7 linked regions of the Homo sapiens genome follow. The protein of the gene in region 4 purifies or fractionates together with the protein of the main gene of each other region. This does not show direct contact. Each region holds a gene or a part of one and is shown on either strand. Other genes may lie near its edges. The genes, in order: ADAR, LHX4, KDM6A, NFIA, RBM25, FOXP4 and TRPS1.

The links.
Region 1: the proteins of NFIA (region 4) and ADAR purify together in Homo sapiens (affinity purification with mass spectrometry, with the first as the bait; one large-scale study listed by BioGRID). This does not show direct contact.
Region 2: the proteins of NFIA (region 4) and LHX4 purify together in Homo sapiens (co-immunoprecipitation; one large-scale study listed by IntAct). This does not show direct contact.
Region 3: the proteins of NFIA (region 4) and KDM6A purify together in Homo sapiens (affinity purification with mass spectrometry, with the first as the bait; one large-scale study listed by BioGRID). This does not show direct contact.
Region 5: the proteins of NFIA (region 4) and RBM25 fractionate together in Homo sapiens (co-fractionation; one large-scale study listed by BioGRID). This does not show direct contact.
Region 6: the proteins of NFIA (region 4) and FOXP4 purify together in Homo sapiens (affinity purification with mass spectrometry, with the first as the bait; one large-scale study listed by BioGRID). This does not show direct contact.
Region 7: the proteins of NFIA (region 4) and TRPS1 purify together in Homo sapiens (affinity purification with mass spectrometry, with the first as the bait; one large-scale study listed by BioGRID). This does not show direct contact.

The regions. Positions count from the first base shown.
Region 1 is NC_000001.11:154,591,187-154,594,686, forward strand, and holds part of ADAR (double-stranded RNA-specific adenosine deaminase), read right to left. Parts: intron 1-3,500. UniProt on the Homo sapiens protein: Catalyzes the hydrolytic deamination of adenosine to inosine in double-stranded RNA (dsRNA) referred to as A-to-I RNA editing.
Region 2 is NC_000001.11:180,236,764-180,240,263, reverse strand, and holds part of LHX4 (LIM/homeobox protein Lhx4), read right to left. Parts: intron 1-3,500. UniProt on the Homo sapiens protein: May play a critical role in the development of respiratory control mechanisms and in the normal growth and maturation of the lung. Binds preferentially to methylated DNA.
Region 3 is NC_000023.11:45,061,688-45,065,187, reverse strand, and holds part of KDM6A (lysine-specific demethylase 6A), read right to left. Parts: intron 2,542-3,500; coding exon 2,440-2,541; intron 1,767-2,439; coding exon 1,371-1,766; intron 1-1,370. UniProt on the Homo sapiens protein: Histone demethylase that specifically demethylates 'Lys-27' of histone H3, thereby playing a central role in histone code. Demethylates trimethylated and dimethylated but not monomethylated H3 'Lys-27'.
Region 4 is NC_000001.11:61,085,561-61,089,060, forward strand, and holds part of NFIA (nuclear factor 1 A-type), read left to right. Parts: intron 1-2,588; coding exon 2,589-3,120; intron 3,121-3,500.
Region 5 is NC_000014.9:73,100,034-73,103,533, reverse strand, and holds part of RBM25 (RNA-binding protein 25), read right to left. Parts: intron 343-3,500; coding exon 56-342; intron 1-55. UniProt on the Homo sapiens protein: RNA-binding protein that acts as a regulator of alternative pre-mRNA splicing. Involved in apoptotic cell death through the regulation of the apoptotic factor BCL2L1 isoform expression.
Region 6 is NC_000006.12:41,594,881-41,598,380, reverse strand, and holds part of FOXP4 (forkhead box protein P4), read right to left. Parts: coding exon 3,390-3,500; intron 1,206-3,389; coding exon 1,139-1,205; intron 601-1,138; coding exon 431-600; intron 1-430. UniProt on the Homo sapiens protein: Transcriptional repressor that represses lung-specific expression.
Region 7 is NC_000008.11:115,666,176-115,670,109, forward strand, and holds the start of TRPS1 (zinc finger transcription factor Trps1), read right to left. Parts: upstream 2,801-3,934; 5' UTR 2,370-2,800; intron 1,839-2,369; exon of another isoform or gene 1,709-1,838; coding exon of another isoform or gene 1,699-1,708; intron 1-1,698. UniProt on the Homo sapiens protein: Transcriptional repressor. Binds specifically to GATA sequences and represses expression of GATA-regulated genes at selected sites and stages in vertebrate development. Regulates chondrocyte proliferation and differentiation.

The sequences.
Region 1 (3,500 bases), about 94 Mb from region 4:
ATAAAGGAAGATTATGAAGTATGAGGAAGGCTTAACGAAATGCTAGCACCAACTTGGACTCTCTTCTTAAGCAGAAATCAGAAGGGACTACCTTTCTCCCCACAAGTCACTGTTACTTCATACACTGTCTGATTTTTAAAGCGCCCAACTCCATTCCCTCATTTACTTCCTATTAGCTCAAGGGGACTTGACCTGGAGAGGTCATTAGGTCAAGGTCGGCCTTAGGCCAGGGACCCAGGTTTTGCTGGGAGTTGTTTTTTTGACTCCTGGCAGGCTTAAGCTAACTCTGGGGTAAGGAATGGATCTTGGGCGCATGAGCTGCGCTGACAATAAAGTGCCCAAGTGGAGCAGGGAGGTGGCTTCTACCGCTCCGGCTGGTAATTTCCAAACACAGAGGGAAGAGCATGGTGGAGCAAAACAGCTTGGAAATGTACCAGACAAGGCATCAAGAATCCTAGCTTTCAACCAGATCCTAATCTACTGGCTGAGAACCCAGCTTTGGATACTCTAACTGCATATAACAGAGGCTTCAGTTTCAAGACTTAGCAGCTCAGGCAGTAAAAGGAATCAACGTTTATGTTCAACCACATGGAGTTTCTCACTGTTCCTTGATGATCCGAAGCAACTAAATGCCTTCACTCTTTTCTTTGTCCATGCTGGCAGGCCCGTGCAGGCCAGTGGGCTTAAGTTCAGAATGAGAGGGACAGTGGCATGAAAAGAAGATGGTGAAGGCGGTCAGGAGGGACAGATTGTGTAGTATCTTTACCTCAGGGATCCAGGAGAATTTCATGACTGCCCCATGTGTTTGAAAAGAATATGAACTCTTACGTGCAAAGTTTTATACTGATATATTTACATATATGATAAAGTTTGTTAATTATGCAACTAGAATCCTTTAGAGCTGTGCTATCCAATATGGTAGCCACTAGCCAAATGGGGCTATTGCCATAAGTGCCTCCTCTCAGCCTCTTTGCCAGCTCTGCGCTTCTCCCACCACAGGATTTAACAGTGTCCTTCGCCTAGAACCCTCAGTCTTTCTCTCTTCATCATCCTTAAAGTCTCAGCTCAGGCAGTACTTCTTGGGGAAGCCCTTCCCCCTCTCCTTCCTAAGTCAAACTGTGCTATAATTGATTCTCGCTGCAACTCCAGCCCTTTGGAATACTTATCAAATATGAGATCTTACATTTCTTTAGGTGACTATTGGTTAATGTTTGGTTCCTGTTCTAAAAAAAATAGAAGATACTCCATAAATAAGTGTTGAGTAAATAAAGTATAAAGATCAGTTAGGAGGCTATTGTGACAGTCTAGATGAGACAGTGGCTTGGATTAGAGTGCTGACGCTGGAGGTGGAAAGAAGAGGAAGGGATTTGGGATAGAAATTCTAAGTATAACCAATAGGACTTAAGGATGAGTTGACGAAGGAGGTAAAGGAGATAGAGGAAAAGATGATCCTCAGGTTTCTGACTTGAGCCACTGGGTAGACAGTGGTATCACTTACTAAGCTGGGAAAGACTTGGGGGAAATGAAGCGAAGGGGGCAAAACCCAAGAGTTCTGCTTTGGACATGTCATATTAGGGATGTTAATCCAAACAGAGGTGACAAGTAAGCAACTAGATGGAGGAATCGGGAGCTCTGAGTGGTCTCCAGCATTTAGATATTAAAGGTCATGGCTGTCGCGGTGGTTCATGCCTGTAATCCCAGCACTTTGGGAGGCTGAGGCGGGTGGATCATCTGAGGTCAGGAGTTGAAGACCAGCCTGGCCAACATGGTGAAACTCTGTCTCTACTAAAAATACAAAAATAGTCAGATGTGGTGGCAGATGCCTGTAATCCCAGCTACTCGAGGAGCTGAGGCAAGAGAATTGTTTGAACCCAGGAGGCGGAGGTTGCAGTGAGCTGAGACTGCGCCACTGCACTCCAGCCTGGGTGACAGAGTGAGACTCCATCTCCAAAAAAAAAAAAAAAAAAAAACAGAAAAGAAGTCATAAAATTAGTTAACGTCACCAGCCACAGTAGACAGAAAGGAAAAAAAGACCCAGCATAATTCACATTAAGAAGCAACTAAAGTATATTATTGTACGAGATAGTTAATAAACGTAGTTACTCAATTAGCATTTCCCCTCTCTATGCAACCTTCCTCAGCTCCCTGGCAGACAGTGGCAGCAGTGTCCTCTGTGTCCCCACAGCACTCTGCATTCACCTCCAATGGCACATTTCAATACTGCTATGGCTATATGTCTGCTACACACTCAGGGGCAGCAATTTTTTGTATCTTCCATCTAGTTCATAGTAAGTTCTTACATTCTCAATGAATGGCTGACTTGAAGTCCTAGAAAGGATTTCACAGAAGATTTCACAGAAGAGAAAGAGGAAATGCACTGAACCTATCATCTGAAGGACTGTGCTTAAAGATAAGGAGGTGCTTATTGAGATGAAGGATATGAATTAGTAGAAGAGCAGCTGGAGGGAGACTGGGCCTCTCCTTTTCCAGATGGCTTAAACAGTGGGCAGATGTGTGTTCTAAATTGGGTCATGTTGGGCAAAGGGCTACTTTTAAAAATTATGTTAAAAGTTCTTACATATCCATGAGAGTAACAATCTGAAAGAAAACTGGAAAAGGACAAGAACAGGTGGTTCACAGAAAAGGAAATGCAAATAACACATAAATATGAATAAATGAAATGCCATTACTTCTGATTTTTTTGTTTTTTTTTTTGAGACGGAGTCTCACTCCATCACCCAGGCTGGAGTGCAGTGGCACAATCTCAGGTCACTGCAACTTCCGCCTCCTGGGTTCAAGTAATTCTCCTGCTCAGCCTCCGGAGTAGCTGGCATACAGGGGCATACCACCATGCTCAGCTATTTTTTGTATTTTTAGTAGAGATGGGGTTTTACCATGTTGGCCAGGCTGGTCTCAAATTACTGAGCTCAAATGATCCACCCACCTCGGCCTCCCAAAGTGCTGGGATTATAGGCGTAAGCCACTGCGCCCGGCTGACATTACTTCTATTAAGGAGAGACAAATTTAAAGTAACAAGATAGCATTTTTATAAGCTTTTTTCCTTAATGACTTTAAAATGGACAAGTTGGATGCCAAACATGTGAAAATTCAAACAGTTAAGAGTGTACAATAAAAGTGTCCCTCCTTCCCCAGAAGCAAACACAGTTGCCAGTTTTTTCGATCCTTCAAGAAAATATTCTAGACATATACAGACAATCTTCACCTCTCCCCTCACTTTACACCTTGCTTTTCCACTTTGTGATAGACCTTAGAGATTAAGAAAACATGCCGGTTGCATGGCAAGAGTGATGCCATCTTGATGCAAAACCACTATGACCACCAATATCTGACTCCCGCATCCCAAAGTGTTGGGTAGCATAAATAATTCCACACAAAGATGTCTACCAAGCCTCCCCACCAGCTAGTGCTCATAAGTTTCACAAGAAAGTATAATGTGTGACCAGCTGCATGTTTAACCAAAAAAGCCTCTATAGAAAGCA
Region 2 (3,500 bases), about 120 Mb from region 4:
CCAGAAGTTCGAGACCAGTCTGGGCAACATAGTGAGCCCCTACCTCTATTATAATAATTTTAAAAGGGAATAATGTTTATTTAACGATGCTCTGAGACCAGATTAATATTTTGTAAAGTTTGTACTTTGATGTGCCAGCTTGATGTGCCTCCTGTGAGGCTTTTGCTTTTTAACTCCCTTTGCTTTTTAACTGCCTTCTGGATGAAGTGTTCTTTTTGTTTCATGCTTTGACTTGACAGCCTAATGCTCAGGACAAGGTTTTTCTTGCTCCTTTCGAGAAAAGGAGCTGGGTCCATGGGAGCCACTTCCGGGTCTCCCTGTTTGCAGACCCCACAGTATTCCCCCTCAGGTGGCCATCCTCTTGGGACAGCCAGCAGTGCTCCCAGGGGCGGCTGTGTCTGTGAAATGGGAGCTGTGATCCCAGTCTCTGAGTGCCTTAAGACCACCAGCACTCCAAACTTGGTCAAGTACTTTCAAATTGGCAAGCTCATTCCCTCCTCCCAGACACCCTGTGAAGCGGACATTCATTGTCTACGTTTAAAAGGTTCTGAGAATAAGGGGCTTCCCTACGGGTACACAGTTTGAGGCCGAATTAGGACTAAACCTTCTTTTACTCTGGGTCTGATGGCTTCCACCTGTGCTCAATCAAAGCCACCTCCATCTGGGATTTTTGCCCAAAACCTTTTTGCTGGTGATTTCCCTCCAGAAGTAAGCAGTTTTTTGAGCTCTGTCTCAAATAACATTTGGCCAATATGTATTTCCAAAAACGTTTAATTTTATTTATTTGTTAAGTTTCTTTACTGACTACTAACTGAAAGGAGACGCCAAATGGGGCTTTAAGGAATCACATATGCAACTGAAATAGTATGCAAATGTTTTTCTTGAAATTTTCCATTCCTTTCCCACATGTAAGGAAGAGAAAACAACAAATTGCAGACATTGCTGTTCTGTTGCCTCAGGTTCCCTGAGTAAGAAAGAAGGAAGATGGTTTTCTAAAGGCAGGCTTGGGAAATACTGTCAGTGGGGGGCTCATTGATTTAGTCGGGGAATAACTAATTCTAAAATGCATCAACAAGGTGAAGCTACAGGATATACCAAGCTGTGGCACACCTGCCTAAACACATACCTGAGTTCTGAAATGTCCAGGTCAAAGATTTATAACGGAGGTATAGTTACATTAAAATTAAATTAACTAAGAGGTCTATTACTGGATAAATATTTCAAAAATAAAACTTTCCATTTCAAAGTAGCCACCATCACCGCTGATGATAAAATCCTGTTTTCTGGTCACAATTCCCCTTTTAAATCACCTGGTAATTGTGACCAAAGGAAGAAGGCCTGATTCATCCATGCAGTCCCCACGCAGGGAAAACCTGAGGCCCACGACTCAGTTTTCCATGACAAATCTGGTGTGTGCCGCCCCCCAACCCTGGCTCTTTGTCATTAAAGAACATTCATTTTTGTTGAACCGTTTATAGTTCTCGTTTTTATATTTTCACTTATTCTAAATCAGCGTATCTTGAAGAGACAATAACAGAATTTTCCAAAATGTTTTTATAAAATTCCTCTTAAGGGATTTTCACAACCTAGTAATAATCACATAACACAGCTAAAGCACAAAATTCCAACATTAATTCTTTAAAACATAAAGAGAAAAGGCACATTGAACATCAATGATGACAGCAGCATTAAAGAAAGAGAGCTGGGCCAGCCACAAAAATATTAGAAAAATTCTAATTTTAAAAATTAGCATCGCATTGAAGGTAAATCATATTCTCTATCATCATATGCACTGACATGTTTTAAAATGCATCAGTGTACTCACGTCTTTTTATCTAATTTCTAGTTTTTTCTAGTTTGTCTTGACAAATGACTAGCAACCAGAAAAAAAGTCAGAAAATCCTTCTTACATCAGAAATGATCACACCTGAAGCTGTCCTTTCCCTTCACTTGCTTTCCGGAATCCTTCCCACTTTTACTGTTTGCTTTATTTGGTGGCTTGGGGTGCCTTTGAAAATCTCCTTTGTTCTTTTTCGGCTTAGTCAAAAATAGAAACCTCTTCAATAAAAGAACAAATTCAAAAGTAAACTGGAGATAATTTCGATGTTATCATTTTAAGGCTGTAATTTGGATATTTTAACATAAGGAGTCGAGTAACAAATGAAATACACAATGTAAATATGTATTTGCAGGGATTATCTCCTAGGTGATATATTGTCACGTAATTAGTATTCTTCAGTAGGATATCATATATCTCAGTAATTGCAAATAAAACAGAAAATTACATTAAGCAAATCCATGTTTGTGTATGGAAATGTTGTAGACACGTCTATTTCCACTCCATTTTCACATTTAATCATTGCTAAATCTCTACAATGTATTTTTCTAATGTCTCACTCTGTAACAGTATTCCATATGTTTGGCAATCTTTCCCTCATAGCAAGAAACTTTCAATTAATTTGGCTGCAAGTTTTGTCTCTATTAAGCTATTCCCAGAACCAATCTCTTAACCCCCTAACATCATAATTAAAGCAAATTATACTTTAAAGACATGTGGGGGTGAGGTACTGCAGTTAAACATCTGTGGCTAGACCCAGACTGACAGAGGGAACAGGGTGGGGAGATCTGAGAAAAGAAATCCACCAAAATTACAGCAGGAGGTAGGACTCACCTCCCAAGACGACTTTCCAGTCAGCCGCTCATACAGTTAACCCCAAAGTCCATTTTCCAAGGGAGAATCCATTTCATTTTCACCAATTAAACCCAACCTGTCCACCTACCCCCAAAAGCAATGCCTCAAAATGGTTGACTTGTGCTCCATTTTGATCAGGGATCCTATAAAATTGAGGACTAAATAAGGTAAAACCTCACAGTGGCATCTAATTTTAGTTGATTTCTTCCTACCACAGACAATAAGAGCCCAGCTCCAGGGCGGCTTCTGTCCTATACCCAGCACCTGTGCTTCCCTCCCAGGGCGCCTAGAAAGAGAGATGGCTCCACCACGGTGCAGCCTGCTGGACACACGACCGCCCTCCTCCCCGCCCCCCCCGCCGAGTAAAACCCCTGTGTCGTGAATTCCTGCACTATCCCATGTTTCTCCCTGCAAAGATTTTGCAAAGGAAGGAAGGGATAGACAGAAGAAATTGGGGGAACAGGGGAAGGAGAAGGAGGGAGGAAGAAAGAGAAATTCAAGCCACCAGACCGCGATGGAATTTTACTAAAAGCAGTGGACCCTATTTGCCCACATCTCTGTTATGGGCATTGTTAACACTCATTCCAGGAAGGGAGAAAGGCAAAACATTGTTACAAAAGTAAAATCGCCTCAACGGCACCCCAGCCAGCCCTCTCCAAATTCAGCCGTCTATGCAGCCATGTATTTGGTGCTGCCACAGCAAACTGCTGCTTCAGTCTGTCTCCAACCGTGGGTTTCTCAAAGTGGGTAATATTACTCCTTTTGTCCTCTCTTCAGCTAAACTGGTTCCAAGTCCCTATGCGTCCCA
Region 3 (3,500 bases), on a different chromosome or scaffold from region 4:
TCACAAATAGCTTCAAGGCTCACTCCTGTAACTCTCATCCAAATGCTATCTTTCAGAGAAGCCTTCCCTGCCCTTCTGATTTATAACTGCAACTCTCCTACCACCAATCTCTAGTATTCTGCTGTTCCCTTTCTATTAGTGCTTTTTTCCATAGCACTAATCACAACCATCATCTAATGTTATATATGTATTGCTTATTTGTTTACTATCTATTTACCTACACCAAGTAGAGACATCTCAGTATATTTTCTTTATTGATGTATTCCCAGAGCCTTGAGTAGGAAATGAACCTAGTAGGTACTCAGTATTTCTCTAAGAATGAATAAAGTACTAATCACTTTAGATCAGGGTCCCACCAAGGATATTAATTCAAGAATAAACTTAAAAATCTTAGAAAAAGAACTTATTTCAGTTTTATCAATAATATAAGACTAACCGACAATCAGCCAAATATTTCTCTTTTTAAGTCAAATATTTCTCATAGTAAATTAATAAAAGTACAAGCAATTTGGCTATACATATTGAGAGCATTTTCTTAAAACTTACTCTTTGGCCCTTCAGTTTCACCTCAGCGAGTACCCATATCATGGAAACAATCCAAAATATGGGAAATACTATGCACATAAACATTCAGAAGTAAAAACTTAGAAATTAAATGTCTAACGAATGTGCTAACGTTGAATACATTATGACCCATTTCCTTGACAAAAATAATGTGCATGCAATTCATTACTCTGTTTCAAAAACTTTAGTGGATCAACTTTGCCTTCAAGATAAATTTGGCCTCTCCCTCAGCCTCTTATTTCACCCTCCCCTCTTCATAACCTATCTTCTAGGCACACTTCACCAGCCCTCTCCTCCCCTAAACTCTAGCTTCTGGAAGACTCTGACATCTTGGTTATGTGCTCTCGTAGGTACTCTGATAGAACTTTCCCACCAAAGTCACACTTCACAGTCATTATGGTAAATACTTATTCACTGGTCTTTTTCTCCCACTAAAGCAAATACCTAACACCTAGTTTAGTGCCTGATCTTAAGTAGGCAGTTTATGCAGAAATGAACTAAGTAATATTACATAAATGTGCTTATGATGCCACTGTAAATTAATGGTGCATTTTGGGTGATTTATATGATCTATTTTCTTCCTTTGTAAATTTGCTAAGTTATCTATGTCGGTAGAGACTGTACAAAGGGAACAAAGATATACTCATGTATGTACATAATGAATCACAATGTAGTAACATTGTAGTGCCACAAAATTCTTATAAAACCAGTTCCCCAAACACTTCTCTCTTCTTCTCTCAAAGTGTATAAAACCCAGTAAAAACATTTATGTGAAAAGCCAACAAGGAAGCTAGTCCTCCTATTACCTGAGTGGAGTTAGATAGTTGGTTTTTCCACGGCTCCTCTGCGCTGCTGGTCAGGTTTGTGCGGTTATGAGGTAGAGTGAGTGCGTTTCGCTGCAGGTAAGGCACGTTTCCATTACTTCCACTTCCTGTTATATGATTATTGCCTATCAAAATAGTGTCTGTACTTCCCAGCGTTCTTGATGTGCTACAGGGAACATGGCCTGCAGAAAAGGGTCCATTGGCCAAAGGCTGCCCAGGGCAGGCAGGACGGACTCCAGGCTGAGAGACGCTAGGCACTCTGGTCAGAGCAAGCTGTGGCTGCTGGCCAGAGACTGAGTTTGTAGGCAGTGATGAGTCAGCTGTTGGCCCATTAGGAATTCCAGTAGATCGTACCTGTGCAACTCCTGTTGGTCTCATCTGTCAAAAAAACAAAGGAAAAGTAAATGCTGGTTGTGTAATCTATAGGGAAGAGAATCTATAGGGGATTCTCTATGAATCCCCAGATGAATATGAAGATGTATAATTAGGGAATGTGTGATTTTACCCAAATGCTTAATTTCTCTAAGTTGAGAAATACATACTTTAAAAACAAGAAATTGTATTTGTTCATTTTAAAATAAACTTCCTTGAAAAAGCAAAAGTCGGTTTCAAAAAAAAAAAATCCCATTAGTAATGACAAAAGGAAGCAGCTGAAAATTATAGAAAACGACCCCGAACTTATAGGTCCTTCTCTCAATCACAAAAGAGGGGACATCTCAAAATTTCATTCTGTTACATATATGCCAGATCCTGTAAACTAAATAAGCCCTAAAAACCTTGCCTCAGTACTAAATAATGTAAACAAACCCTTAGAATACATGTGAAATATCATGTAAATAAATAAAATACAAAGTATCTTCTTCAAAATTATAGTTGCTTTTGTCTAAAAATCTCCGTCAATTACCAGTATTTTAAAATACAGAGATTACTAAATTCTGTCAAATACCAGTAGAAAGTAAAAATGAACATAAACATGCTCTAAAATGACATTAGAGTCAATAAAAATACTCAAAATGCTAACAAATTTCAGGGAAAAATATGCTATACACACTTGGTGTTGTTGCATTAAGACAAACTGACTTTCCAGCTGTTCCAGCATCAGTTTCTGTGCTGGATTTAAATTATTTCTATTTGCGCGGAGCTGTTCCAAATGCTAGAAGAAGAACAAAAAGAGAATATAGTCAAAGATATATTTAGGAAATAAGATCATTATTCTAAGCAACCTTTCCCTGAAATGACTAAACTCAGAACCACTATCTGGTCAAACACACTGTCTTCTGACCAACAGTCACACACTCCAAGATGAAGTCCTTTAATAAGCTTGAGAAATATAAGAATGAACTAAGCATTCATCTGAACAAGATTTACTATGAGTTCTTTGTAATAGATGGGCATGAAATTTTACTCATCCATACAGTATTCTTAGGTATTCACAGAGAAAACTCTTGAAGCTTAAAAATATATTGACAAGTATGCTAAAAGCAGCACTGTCTGGAATAAGCAAAGTCTGAAGACAACCTGAATGTCCAAAATTACTGATCTGCTTAAATAAAGGTGTTACATCTATATAAAGAAATATGATGTAACCATAAAAGAACAAGGAAGCTCTTCACATATTGACATGCAGAAGTCTGTAAAATATGTTGTTAACAGCAAATAAGAATCCTATCATTTGTGTAAAAAAGAAGAAAAATAATAATACATGTGAGAAAGGGGGGGATGTATATTTGCTTGTACATACATAACATACCTCTGGAATGATAGATAGGAAATTAGTAATACCAGCCACATTTTGAGTGGGTAGGGGCCAGAGTTAGAAGAAAACTTTACCCTATATACCCTATATTTATACTTTATGTAGTGTAAACCATGTCCTGTTTAAAAAAAAAAAAAGAAATTAAAAACAAGAATGAATGCTCTTCATTATTCTGGTAAATGCAGGCTCATTTTACTTTTGTGCATTTTAATTGAATGTACTGCCATTTAACTTATAAGAATTAATACTTAGGGCTGGGTGCAGTGGCTCACACCTGTAATCTCAGCACTTTGGGAGGCTGAGGTAGGTGGATCACTTGAGGTCAGGAGTGCAAGACCAGTCTGGCCAACATGGCG
Region 4 (3,500 bases):
CACACTACTTTTTTTTTTTAACTAATCATTTATGCTATTCCTGGACATTTCTTGCAAGCTAATGATACTCTTTAGTTTTGATATTCTGGAATATTTTAAATCATGACTTGAGAAAGATACATTAGAAAAAATCAATACTTTAATTGTGCATATGAGTAAAGTTATACAAAATATTGTGGACTTTTACTGGCAGGTTCTTAACCTTTGGGGAGTAATACATTGTAAATACTTTTGATGCAAAATTGGGGACTTAAGTTATTCTTAATGACTAATTGACATAGTTGTTCTTGTTTAAGGATTTTTATGATGAGATATATGGGCATTTGGTTGGCAGGTAAACAGAATCCTGTTGGACACGAATGCATGCATGCAGTTTGCAGTTTTTTGAAAAGCATATTGGGAGTATCTACAGACACTTAAAATGCCATATTAGAATGTTTATTTTAAATGCTTATTATCATTAATCAAACTTTTAAATAAGATAACATTTTAACATAGATATGAATCGTTTGGAGCTAAGTTATACTTTGCATTATAAAATGGGGATGAAACTTTAAAATGAAGTCCTCCTTTTGGTGAAAGCTCACTTGGTAGTTTAAGGTAGACTCCAGGAGTTTTTTGCATAATACAACAGAGTCTTGGTCCCTAGCATGTCTTGTATATATAAGAAAATCAGTCAATGTGAAGTTCTGTTTCAAACCTAAAATTTATGTATTTTAGATCATTTCAAGGATGAGCTCAGAATTTAGTAACGTTTAGATGCTTTGTGGTTTGGCGTATACCTTTGCAGATAAACTGTGACTTGCCCCCCATGCCTGTCACCTAAAGTATGAGAATAAGAAATATTCTCAAACATCAGAAATTTTAAAAATGTTAATGGTTTATGGCAAGAATAACAATTCCTGTATTTTTTTCTATTCTCTCTCTACTTAAAGAATGCACACGTGTTACAAAAGCTGACTACTTCTCTTTTGGATTCTTTTATTGAAAAAGAGCAGTTTTGAAAGCTAAACTTGAAACATAGAACCTGAAATTTGTGCAGAGAGGAAAAAAGTCAGTTATTGAAGTAATTTATTATGTATTAATATATACTTACTTTTAAAAGCTCAGTCATATAGAGTGTTTAAATGATTGATTATAATTTGCTAAATTTTTAAACAACACGACTATTAAATATTTTACCTTATCAGTTCACATTTGAACATTTAAAAATTTAGTAATTGTGTTAATAATAATATTCTGGACATTACTGCTACCTGTGCCTTGAAAGTATATATTTAGTTAGATATAACAAACTGAAAAAGAATGCATTTTATAATATTTGTCTGTCCTACACCATTTAGCAAAAAAGCCATCGAATCTTTCTTTGGTTTCTAATCCTCATTTATTTGAAGGTAATCTATGTTTTGGAGAGGGGGTTATGTGGCAGAGAGAAGTTATGTAACAGTGTGGATTAGTTAATCAAAAGTTAGACGTACTCCGAAAGCTTTGTGGAGGTTACTGCTTAATTTTTTAAAAAATATATTTATATTTCCTAAGAAAATGTCATGTATAAGGATCAAACATTTTAAGCAAAACAGAAAGAAACATTTAAATATTTGAAACTCAATTTTTTTTTCAATTTTAAGAGGCATCTATGAGGGTTTTCCCGGCATCTTGTAAATATTGAAAATACCAGGTTCTGATTCCCTATGAGAAAAATCCTGAAATAGTATTTGCAAAAATTAAATAATCTATTTTTTAGGTATGATTATTACTGAAAGCACTTCACAATCATATTAGTAAATTAAATGTATTCATGTATGCTTTTCTTTGTTTTTTTTTCCTCTTTCTTCCCCCTTTTTGTTTCATTCCCATAGTATTAGCAATTATGTCTTGGGCATAGATCTTTTATTTTAGCCTAATAAATATCAAATTCAATCCTTCTTTTGTATATGAACCTCCCAAATTTGTCCTAGTTTTTGACTAAAAAAATTATATGTAGTTATAATATTTAAAAGGGGAATTTAGACACTAGCAAAATGAGTAAGAAACATATCAGAATCTACATGCAATATTTTTAGGGGGAAAGCCTTTGTTTTCATTGATTGTAGAGATGATTTTTTGCTCCTAGACTTCCATAAACATTGACTGGCATCTAAATGTTTAGGATTTGCCAATCTGGCGGCTGGGCCCTGGCTGTACTACAAGTGGTGAGGTCAAGGCTGGGACAAAATTAGATATGCCTTCCTTGAAATAGGGTTAAGATTATACATTGTTATAAGCATTTAGATAAACTTCACTTACTATCTAAAGGATGGGGAGCTAGGCCCGACAGTAGTAGCTGGTGTACCCTGGTGAACATATTAAAACAGTTTTTTAATTTTCAGCAGTTTTTTTATTTCCGATCATAAGAAATGATACTGATAGTTTTCTCTCCCACCTTCCCAGACTTCCCATAGGATCCTGTGTATGATTTTGGTAACAGAATGCTCTAATCAAATTTCAAGTGAAATGAGGAATTTCTTTCTTAAGGTGACCCGCTGAAGAAAAGTTGTTTTCTTTTGTTTTCATTCTACTTATATTTTTCTTTTTGTTCATTTTCCTAGGATGAATTTCATCCTTTCATCGAAGCACTTCTGCCCCACGTCCGAGCCTTTGCCTACACATGGTTCAACCTGCAGGCCCGAAAACGAAAATACTTCAAAAAACATGAAAAGCGTATGTCAAAAGAAGAAGAGAGAGCCGTGAAGGATGAATTGCTAAGTGAAAAACCAGAGGTCAAGCAGAAGTGGGCATCTCGACTTCTGGCAAAGTTGCGGAAAGATATCCGACCCGAATATCGAGAGGATTTTGTTCTTACAGTTACAGGGAAAAAACCTCCATGTTGTGTTCTTTCCAACCCAGACCAGAAAGGCAAGATGCGAAGAATTGACTGCCTCCGCCAGGCAGATAAAGTCTGGAGGTTGGACCTTGTTATGGTGATTTTGTTTAAAGGTATTCCGCTGGAAAGTACTGATGGCGAGCGCCTTGTAAAGTCCCCACAATGCTCTAATCCAGGGCTCTGTGTCCAACCCCATCACATAGGGGTTTCTGTTAAGGAACTCGATTTATATTTGGCATACTTTGTGCATGCAGCAGGTAAGTGCGATGGTGAGAATTCCTCCCACTTTCTTGTGTGTGTTTCTTTCCTGATGGCCTCCGCGTTATGCCGGATTCTTCCTGAGCTCCCCAAGTTGCAGGCCACGTACATGAAGCCAGTGTGGTTTCAAAGATTGAGAGAGGTGCCACCTTCATTCAGGTGAAAAAGCATAGCTTTGAGCGAATTCTCACTAAGTTCAGCTCTTTTGGTAAGTAGTGTTTTCAGAGGCGTTGGTAATCAGATATGTGATATGTTTAAATCACATTTTTTGATGAGGGGATGAGAGAAGCCTCGTGAAAACCCTTTTAATAAAGAGTATATTTTAACTGACAAATGATCTAGTTTAAAAGCATTTATTTTGGTATTGAGGCAATATTTT
Region 5 (3,500 bases), on a different chromosome or scaffold from region 4:
TACCCGATAGTTTTCTTAAAGCTATCAGGAAACAGTAACTTCTGTAAAGCCTTACCTTGATCGACTGCGATCCTTATTACGATCTGAGCTCCTTTCTCTATCCCGGTCACGATCTCTCTCTCGATCCCGATCTCGGTCTCTCTCTTTTGTCCGGTCACGGTCCCTATCCCGTTCTCGTTCCCGCTCCCGTTCTTTCTCCTTTTCTCGTTCACGTTCTCTTTCCCTTTCTCGTTCCCGTTCTCGCCTTTCTCGTTCCCTTTCACGCTCCCTCTCTCTTTCTCTCCGTTCTTTCTCAATTTCCTGTCTTTCTTTTTCCTTTTTGCCTTTCTCTTCTTCCAGTTTCTAGAAACCAATAAAAGCACTTTTAGAGTTAACTCTGTAGCTCCAGTATTCAGATTTTTCCCGGCGCAAAGCCCAGTACTGGGAACAAAAACACCAAACCACTGATACATTAATATTAAATACTTGTGGTTTTATGTGACAAATTAAACTGAAGCAATCACAAGACTAGAAAGATTTCGTGCAAAACCATATACTCTACACAGACCAGGAATCTCCAATCTTGGATGCTGGGAGATTGTGTCAGGTGTGGCTGGCCACTCAATGACTATGTACTAACTAAAATGACCATGAAGAATGTGGTGGTTCGAAATATTTTCTATGAATACGATCATTGGTTAAAACTCAACTCTGTGCATTATAGATTTCTGTAAATCCACAAGATTATTAATACTAATTAAAACCCCAGACTGCACATTACCTCAAGTTGAGGGTTTCAAAGGGCAAGTGGTATAGAAGAATACCTATAATGCAACTAAATAATCTCTGCCCTCTGATTTGCCCACCCTCCAAAAGAAACACAAGCTGAATTCAGCCAAGAACTGCCTTATCATCTATGGAAACATTTACTCCCACCATTACAAGATGGACAGCCCACCAAATACAAAAAGTTTGAAAATCACTCACTTCAAGCAAAATATATGTAACTGTAATAGTTTAATTTAAAATATTTAAAAGCAACATACTTATGCCCATTATGCCTGTAAGACAATGAAAATATATTTACAATGATAAATCCATCCTTGGAAGGAACGATTGTGCATTAACTTACAGATGCTGTGCTAGGACATGGATCGCCAACACTGGATTAACCTTGCCTACAAGCTATGTTTCTGGGAGGAAGAGCAAGTACATGGTTCACAAATAAACCAAATAACAAAGTCAGACCAAGTTTGTACCCTGACAAGATTACCAGTGTACCACACGGTTTCTACACAAACTCAGAAAAAAATACCCCAAACAGGTAAAACAAAACAAAACAAAACACATTTATCCCTTTTGTTTCACGTTTAGTTTCACCAAAATGAAATTTTAAACTGCAACAATAAAATGTGCATTTTTCTTTTCTCAGTCATGTAATGCATTTAAAACAACTTTAAAAAGCAATCTTACCTGTCAGATACTCTTTTTCTCTTCCTCATGGATCAGAGAACTTATAGCAGGTTATGAAAGGAAAGCTAATGTATGAGCAATATATTCAGTTGCTGTGCCAGTCTATATCGAAGTAGAATACGGGCAAAGTCAAAACTGAATACATTGAAATTACAAAGGGATGAAATAAGATATGATAGAAAGAGGACAGAAACTAACAGCTATTAAAGGGGGAAAAATCTCATTTCTGAAACAGTTCCAATGAATATAAAAATTTATATTGTAAAATGAGGCTAGACTATATAAAACTTACCTCAATGGCATACACTTATAAAGAAATTTGTTTATTTCTGAAATAGATACTTACAGAATATTTTAGCTGTTCCAATACTAATTTTTCCTGTAGAATTCCTCAATTTTTAATTCTTGCTTATTTCACTGTGCTCCTTATATTCAGTTATATAAATAACCATTTGTTTCAGAACTCATTTCAAAAGTTTGGTTCTAAGTAAATGAAAAAGTGAGTGAATCTAGTCCATACTAAATGTTTCCTGAAGTTTATATATGAGATATATATATATATATATATACACACATGTATACAAATACAGGTATACATGTAAACATACATGTATATTTTTAAAGAAAGACTGGAGAAGGGAAATGAGGTGAGTCTAAAATTATGTAAGAAAGTCATGAAGAGGAAAGGACAGATTAAAAAATCATAAATCTTACCTTATTCTCTCTTCAGACTCATCCGTGCTGTAAATGGACGCCCCCTGCCACGCTGATACCCTGACAGTCTGTGGTTATTTAATAAACTCATACCAAAACATGCAAAGGTTCACTGAGCTCATTTTTTGTTACTGGAGTTTCAAACAACCCTTTTAGCCAAACCACCCAATAAAAAACAACTGTTTTGGTTTTTCATTTTGATTTCTTTTTATTTTGAAAAGACATTCTGAAAATTCAAAACATTCCCTCCAGTGAAATAATACTAAGGCAGTAAAATGCCTAACAGATTCCCAAACTTTAAAGCAAATATATTTTTGAATTTTTCTTAAAACATGATTTCCTCATAATTTACCAATAACATGACAGGGTTTAACAAATAAATAAAAACAAAAAGGGGGTAAACCACACACACAACCATATACCATTTTTAAGCTTACTCGGTCCTGAATTTCAGTATTATACCTAACCAAAATTATTCATCTAAAATGATTTCCCATAGACCACCTTTTCAACTCTCAAAATTAATTTTGGGAGAATTATGTTTGTGCTCTTAGACACATTTAATTCTTGAAAAAGCATTGTGTTTGTGAGCAAGGGCTGGGCATCTGGATAGTAAGTGTTCAGCAGCACTGATTCATTGGCATTATTTGTGAACTGCAGATTTTGAAAGCAATGGGAAAAAGTAAGAATAAAAGAGAAAATGAACATTTAACATTTCACTGAGTTAAAGATCTCTCAGTCTATCAGTAAGAACCAGCAACACCTTATTATCTCGACCATCAAAATACATTTCATGCAGTGTTTGCATTGCACCGTTCAAAAGCATCATTTTCAACACCAGCGAACATTCACAGATGCACTGTCATTGAGAGAAGCTTCAAATAGGCAAAACTCGTGAGTGGGATTTACTATGCATAAATACCCATTTCCAAGCCAGTTACCCCTTTGCATATTTTTCTGAGGGGGCATCCATAAATATAATAAAAAACAGAAGCTCATACTTACATCCTATTCCTTGTTACTTTCCAAGCTGAGAGTTTCATCTTGCATTAGTCACCATATGATCTCTATCATAATGGTGGGGGTCAATGAATAGATTAGCTTTATGGGAATTTACAGTTCTTCCATGCATCTAAAATTTGGTAAGTCTGGTAACCACTGACCTACTGTTTAAAATCTCCCCCACTCAACTTAAATCTATACAAATATAAAATGTAAATTTTAATCTCAGCTCTAAAGAAAAGGTATTCCTAAGATCAAGTTAAATAACTGCCCCCAGAAATACACTACAGTGTATGTTATCCTGCTGCCCCCTGAATCTAATTTAAGTCTGA
Region 6 (3,500 bases), on a different chromosome or scaffold from region 4:
GCTGGGCATGGTGGCAGGCACCTATAATTCCAGCTACTTGGGAGGCTGAGGCAGGAGAATCACTTGAACCCAGGAGGCAGAGGTTGCAGTGAGCCAAGATCTTGCCATTACACTCCAGCCTGGGTGACAGAGCGAGACTCCGTCTTAAAAAAAAAAAAAAAAAAGAGAAGAGAGGAGGAGGAAAAATAAGAAAGGGGGAAAATGGGGAGGAGAAGGTGGGAAGGTGGGGAGGTGGGGAGAGGGGATAAGAACAGGCAGGTGGGACAAGGGAGGGCTGAGAGGGCTGAGGGAAGGAAGAGAGAAGCCACTTGTCCTGGGGAGAGGCGTGGTGGGGGTGGGATGGGGAACCCCACCCAGGGTGGGGGATGACGCCTCCTCCCTGGTGGTTGAGGGGTGCTGGGGTGGGTGGGGGTCCGTGCTGTGTGCTCACCTGTACTGGGGCGGGGAGAGGCGAGGAGGGCTGCTGCTGCCGTTGCTGGGCAGCGGCTCCACGGGGGCACCCACGTCATCGTGGCTGAGGGGCAGCAGGCTGCTGGCGGAGCCAGGGTTCAGCATGCCAGGGCTGTTGAGGAGGGGGAAGCTGCTCTCGGCCAGGGCGGCCTGCAGGGGCACAGGGTTGGGCCTCGTCAGTGGCTCCACAGGATGGGGCACACTCAGTCAAGTGCTGTGCCTTCCCCGCCCACTAGAGAGCTGCCTGTGTGTCTGCCTACTGGCCCCACGGGCGGATCTGTCTGGGCAACCCCCAAGCCCCAACTCAGCCTTTGAATGTAGCACCCCTCCCCCATGGCTGGAACTCTGACCCCCCGACCTCCTACCTCCTAGCTTTCCTGGAACCTGGGCCTGGCTTATCCCCTCTCCCAGGGAACAGAGAACCCCCAGACTGACAAACCAGGAAAGGGGATGCTATAGGTATGCCATCCTCCCAGCTGCCTGCCTTGTCTGAACCCAGCCTTGAAAGCAGAGGTGGAGGCTGGCCCCGAGTTGGGGTGGGGCAGAGAGGTGGGGTCTCGGAGAGTTTGGGTCTTCACCCTCCTTCCCTCCTCTGGTGAGTCCTCTGCAGGGGAGGATGGGGGTCTCTTGTATGAGAAAGCAAGGGGGCGGGAGGTAGAGGTGAGTGGGTGGGCTCTGGGCAGGTCACCTGGTAGCTGGCATTAAGTGCTCCATAGCTGAGGCCAGAGATCATGTTCTTCACCAGGGTGGGGCTCCTGGAGGACAGAGAAGGCCATCTTTGGCTCACTCATTCACTTAGCTCTTCATTCGCATCTCTTTACTCTCACTAAGTAACGGCCTGTGCTGGGAATGGGTCCCATTCCCTATTCCGGGAGGCCAGGGCGGATCAGCCGCTGTCTTGGAGCTGTGTGTGTACTTGGTCTGATTCGGTCTTCACGCTCAACTGGCCCTGCAGGAGCAGCCCCTTCACAGGTGGGTGCGATGGGCTTGGTTCAGGGACCTGTCCAGGTCTCGGAGCTGGGAAGTGGGAACTGGCATCCCCCCAGTGTCTGCCTTCACAGCATGCTGCCCCCCCACCCGTTTTCTCTCCGGTCTAGATTTTCCAATGTTTGGCAAGGTCTAATCTATAGTCTCAGTAGTTACACACCTGGTCTGCCCACACTGTCTTGCCATCCTAGATTTTGGGACATGTCAGACATATGCTCAGCCTGTCCCACATGGAGGCTTCTGTATGGAAGCCTCCATACAGAAGGCTTCTCTGCACGGGAAGGTGTTCGGGAGTTGGGACAGGAAAAGCAGTGGCTGGGGGCTGTCCCTCTTCCAGTGATGACACCATCACAGAGCTCTCACAGAGCTTAAGGAAACAGCCAAAGGTCACCAAACTGGTGAGAAGCAGAGGTGCAAGCGCAGCCAGGCCTGGAGACTGGCCCCTAGGCATTCACCAGGGGATGGCTTCCCTCCATTCTCCAGGCTGCACACTGCCTGGGGTGCAAAGGCTCCTGCCTGGTAAGCAGGCATCTTTGAGGGGAGCAGACACCCCACACCTCAGAGACATCCATCTAACTTGCTCTCCTCTCCTTACCCAGGGGCTCTGGCCCAAGGGGCACAGCAAGCAGGTGGCTGGGGTGGGGCTGTTTGAGGTCGGGAGAAGGCCACTGCTGCTACGTGGAAGCCAAAGGGAGGTCCTGACCCTGTCCCAGGCTCCTCAGTTTCTGTTTAAACTGCCAGGTGGAGGCTAGGTGCGGTAGCTCACGCCTGTAATCCCAGCATTTTGGGAGGCCGATGCGGGCAGATCACCTGAGGTCAGGAGTTCGAGATCAGCCTGGTCAACAGGGTGAAACCCCGTCTCTACCAAAAGTAAAATAATTAGCTGGGTGTGGTGGTGGGCGCCTGTAATTTCAGCTTCTCGGGAGGCTAAGGCAGGAGAATCGCTTGAACCCACAAGGTGGAGGTTGCAGTGAGCCAAAATCGTGCCACTGCACTCCAGCCTGGGCAACAGAGCAAGACTCTGTCTCAAAAAAATAATAGGCCAGGTGCGCTGGTGCACGCCTATAATCCTAGCACTTTGGGAGGCCAAGGCAGGTGGATCACCTGAAGTTGGGAATTCGAGACCAGCCTGACCAACGTGGTGAAACCACATTTCTACTAAATACAAAAAAAATTAGCCGGGCGTGGTCGTGGGCACCTGTAATTCTAGCTACCCGAAAGGCTGGGGCAGGAGAATTGCTTGAACCCGGGAAGTGGAGGTTCCAGTGAGCTGAGATCGTGCCATTGCACTCTAGCCTGGGCAACAAGAACAAAACTCCTTCTCAAAAAAAATAAATGAATAAAATAATAAAATTAAAAAAATAATAAATAAATAAGTAAATAAATAAAATGCCAGGTGGTGAAGTGAAGCTGAGCACAAAAGACCAGGAGGGCAGAGACCTGGTCCTGGAACCAGCTCTGCCACAAATCTGCTCTGGGGCCTCCTGCCAGCCCCTGGCCCTCACTGGCTCTCCTCTGCCGTAAGATGAATTGGTGGGGTCGCGGGACCTCAGAGGTCTAGTCATCCTGATGAGCTGAGAGAGCGGGTGCCCTGGGGGTGGCAGCCCCTCACCCATGGCCCGTTGGCTGGCATCTGCCTGTGTGCCAGCTCTGGCCAGGGCTACTTGGGGCCCCTGTCTCTCTTTGCTACCAGGCCTCCTTCTTGGCCCCTTCCCTCAGTCAGAGTGAGGACAGAAGAGGACATAAATGTCTGCCTTCTGATTATCCATCACTTCCGGATTCCAGCCCCCTGTCCCCAAGCACTAGTCTCCTCTGCTCCTTTCTCCCCACACCCCTTCCCCCAGCCAGGAAGGATCTGGTGCACATGTGTACCCTGGAGAGGTAGGGGGTGGGGGTGAGTTGGCTCCTGCCCCCTGGGCAGGTACAGCCCATCCAGCTCTGGACCCACATACCCTGTCATCTTTGGCGGTCTCCGCTTCTGATACTCCCGCTCGTCCACAGTCCACACGGCACCCTTGACGTTCTCCACGCGGACGAAGCACTTGTGCAGGCTGAGGTTGTGG
Region 7 (3,934 bases), on a different chromosome or scaffold from region 4:
AGGTGTAGCTTTAAAAGGAAGTTATGAAATCCAAGGAGAGAGAAACTCTAAGAATATGTTTGACTTGTTAAGATTAAGCATATCATTAATAAACTTTCACTTAAAGGTAAAAAAAAAAAATCCTCAAAATGTTGGTATCATTTCCAGACTGTCCTGTCAGCATCAGAACTTACAGGAAACGCTTCATCTTCCCATACAAACCCTGTATTTATTCACAACCCTGGCATACTTGGGGAAAGAAAAAAAAAAAAGCCCACACGATTTTAGATCCTGTTTGCTTTTATACGTTAACTGGTGGAATATCTGAGAGAGCCTTCTAAGCAAATGAGCGGCATGTAAAACTTCACAACAGTGAGTTCAGAAACTTTCATTCTCATTTTGTCCACGTCAAGAACTGGCTGCCCGCATGACTTTCCTCTGCTGTCCCTTGCATTTTTAACTCTGGCAGCCTTTTCTAAATGATCAACTTTTTCTAAAACCAGCAGGAAAGTAACATGATGCCAGCAAGATCCATAGGTTTTAGCTTCAGAGCTGGAGGACTTTGAAGAATTGTTGGAAGGTTCCTATTTTATTTTTGCTTTGAACAATCAAGTTTTAGCCAACAACCAGGCCCAGAGTTATCATTTCTTTGTAATTTTGTCTCAGGCCCTATCTGTATTTTTCTTTTGTACTTATTATCTCTCCCAGACCCTTTCCTTTCCTGTTCACCTGGTGTGTTTACAAAAGTTCAATGAATCTACAAAAGTTCAATGAATAGGCCTAACTTGTCTCAGATTTAACTCCTCCGCTGAGCTTCTCACTTCACTTACCTCGCTTAAACTCTAGCCGTGATTTTCCAAAATGGCATAAGAATGAATATTCTATCATAATTTAGATTCATCATTAAGATCAATGGCTTACTCAAAAAACTTTCAAAGCATCAAATATGAGGCCTAAAAAGATAGAGGGAAGTAAAGCCGGTCCTAAAATTTAATAAGTCCAAGATTCCCTCTGAAACCCACCAGTCCTTCTCACCCTCTAACTTAAATTGCTTTAGAGTCCTGGGGCCATAAAACAGTTGCTGACTTCCCTGGGGAAAGGGGGAAACACCACCATCTCAGACAGGTACTAACGAAAAAGCTTTCCCAGCCACAAAAACAGCTTTACACTTCAAACAGCTCCCACCGCCGCCTCACCCTCAAATTATTCCTGGGGTCCTATAATCCTGGAGTTATTTGGAGGGACAGCGATGTTTGCCTTGGCCTTTCAAAGATGCGTTTCTCTAGATCCCAAACAGGAACCAGACAGAAGGCAAAGCGTCTGTCCGCTTGGATGTCCCACCGCTGTCAGGCATTTAATCACCGGCCAGTGTCCCCTGACCCGCGCGACACATGGCGCATCAACCGCATCGCAGAGGAAGTCTGCCCCTTCCTCAGCCCCTACGGAAGCGCCCGGGCTGCAAGGCCCTGCCACATGGTACGGACAGGGCACAGACCGCTCGGCCAAGCTGTCCTGAGCCGCTCTGAGGCGGGTGCACCAAGGGATGCGACACCCGCCTTCTCCAGAGCCCAGCTGGGCCTTTAAGGGAAAAAAGTTTGAAGCCTGCATTTGCAAACTCTTCAAAGCCAAAGGCAGTCCTGTGCTGTTTTCCCACTTTGGAGACCATACGGAGGCCCGTCTCTGAGACCCTCCCGACCCTCCCGAGTTCGCCCAACTTACTACTCTGCATGCTGGTGCCTAGTCTGCGCCCCGCTTGTCACGAGCCCCCAGAAAACTTGCAGTGGCGGCGGCGGCGGCGGCCCCTCGGGTCCAACCACCTCCAGCTCCTCCGCTGCGCCCGGTAGGAGAGAATTAAAATCAGCCAGAAAGAGACAGCGAGGGGGAGTGGGGCTGCGAGGGGGAGGGGGCACCGGCCTGAAACTTCTTTTTTTGGCAAATGGGGATTTGTTTTTCCTCCTCCCCGGCGGCTGAACTTGACCCTGCTGACTCCAGGGGCTACTGCAGTTTGAAGTCGCTGGTTTCCAAAGCTCAGATGCCTCAGACCCACCAAAAGGAGGAGAGGAAGGGGGAAAAAGGGAGCAGAAGAGAAGAAAGAAAGAAAGAAATCACACGCTCAAAAAGGAAGAAAGAAAATGCATGTGAAACCCGAGAAGCCTGCGCTTGGCTTTCTGCACACTCTCCCTCTGCTTTTTTTTTTTTTTTTTTTTTTTTCAAAGAAAGTCACTTTTAATTCCCAGGGCTCCCCGCTCGCGATCGCCCACATTTTGCGCGCACACGAGCGGGCGCTGCACTCGCGTCGCGGCGCCCCGGGCCCGGCCGAGGGGCGCCCGCGCCCCCCGCGCCCCCCGCAGCCCCCGGCCCCGCGGCCCGCTCGGGCCTCCCCTCCTTACCTGTTGATTAATCGTCAAGAACACCCTCGGCAGCCCGAAAGATGGTGGCGCGGCGGCCAAAGCCATGAACCGTCTTCTGTTGTTTGCAGAGTTGATCTTGGATTATTGCGGGGGGGAGAGAAAAAGGTCTTTCCTGCCTCCCCCCCCTTTCCCTCCCCCACCCTTATTAAAAAAGAGAGAGAGAGAGAGAGAGAGAGAAAGAGAAAGGAAATAGAGCAAGGATGTGCCCGGTGCCGGGTGGGAGAGGGGAGGGGGTGTTGTTTTTTGTTTAAAAAAAAAAAAAAGAAATAGGAAGGCGAGAGAGCAATCGAGAGGACGCGAGGTCTGGAGAAACCAGCAGCACCAAAAAAGAGGACGCTAGAGATTGCAGTAAGATCGGGTCTTTATCAGAAATGTTATCGCTTGTCAGGACCTCAGTCTCCGCGCATTACGTCAGTTTCAAGACACCAACACTATTAATATCAAAGGAGCCTTCGCGGAGGAAAGCGCCACCCCAGACCGAGCTCCCTTAAAGAGACAGCGCGCGTCCCCGCGCCGCCGCCGCCGCCCCGCCCGGCTCCGAGCACCCGCCGCCGCCGCCCGCCGGGACCGGCCCCGGCCGCGGCGAGCCGGCTGCGCGAGAACTTCGCCCGAGTCGGAGCGCCGCAAATGAGAGCGGCGCGGTGCAGGGACCCGGCTACCTTCCCGCCCCGCCTCTCCCCCCTCCTCCCTCCCCCACCTCCCGTCTGTGAACGTGCGGGCTGGAAAAGGAGGAAAAATCCGAACGCGTTAGGAATAATGTGATAAAGACGAGGACTTACCTTGGGGTAGTGGGGGGCAGGTGGGGGGCAGTGCGTGGCCGCCAAACCGACGTTCCCCAGACACTCAGAGATGCTAACAGAAACAATTTAAAGAACTCTCAAAGTCCTTTTACCTTTTCTGTTGTTACTTTCCCTTCTCTCTCCCAATTAAACGACGCAGGATGTGTGTGTGCGTGTGCGCCCCCTCCCCCGCCCTTTATCTGTGGCAAGAAGTCTTAGGACACCTAGTTGGTGATCAGGATTCCCCACGATTTTCACGGCAAGAAGGCTTGAGGAGAACAACTTGAACTCTATCCTGAGTTGGAGAAGTGCGGACTGAGGTTGCTATGGTTTTCTGAGCTAAAGAGAAGCCAGAAACTCAATGGGTGCTTTAAGGGGGTACCACAAAACAGACAAAATGGGAACATTATTCAAATGCTGCAAGATTAATACATGCAGTTTGGGTTTTAGTAGCAGATAAGGAACTCTGAATTAAGCGTGACATTCTTTTTTACCTACTTTACATCTCCATATACTCTCATTATTAAGAGAAATTGCCTCAACATAAAGTTCACTGGATTGAGCTTTTTTTTTTTTTTTTGACTTCTAAAGATCAACAATGCATAAAACATTACCATGACAGGATTCAAAGTATAGTAGGTGTTAAAAACAAAGTAAACATTTCTTGGGCGTTTGGACTTCATTTTCTTCAGTTGGGTGACTTTAAGTGGCATGTTTTTCCTCTGGTGAAAGTCAGTTTAAAGTAATTTTGTGCTAAAAGGAGAA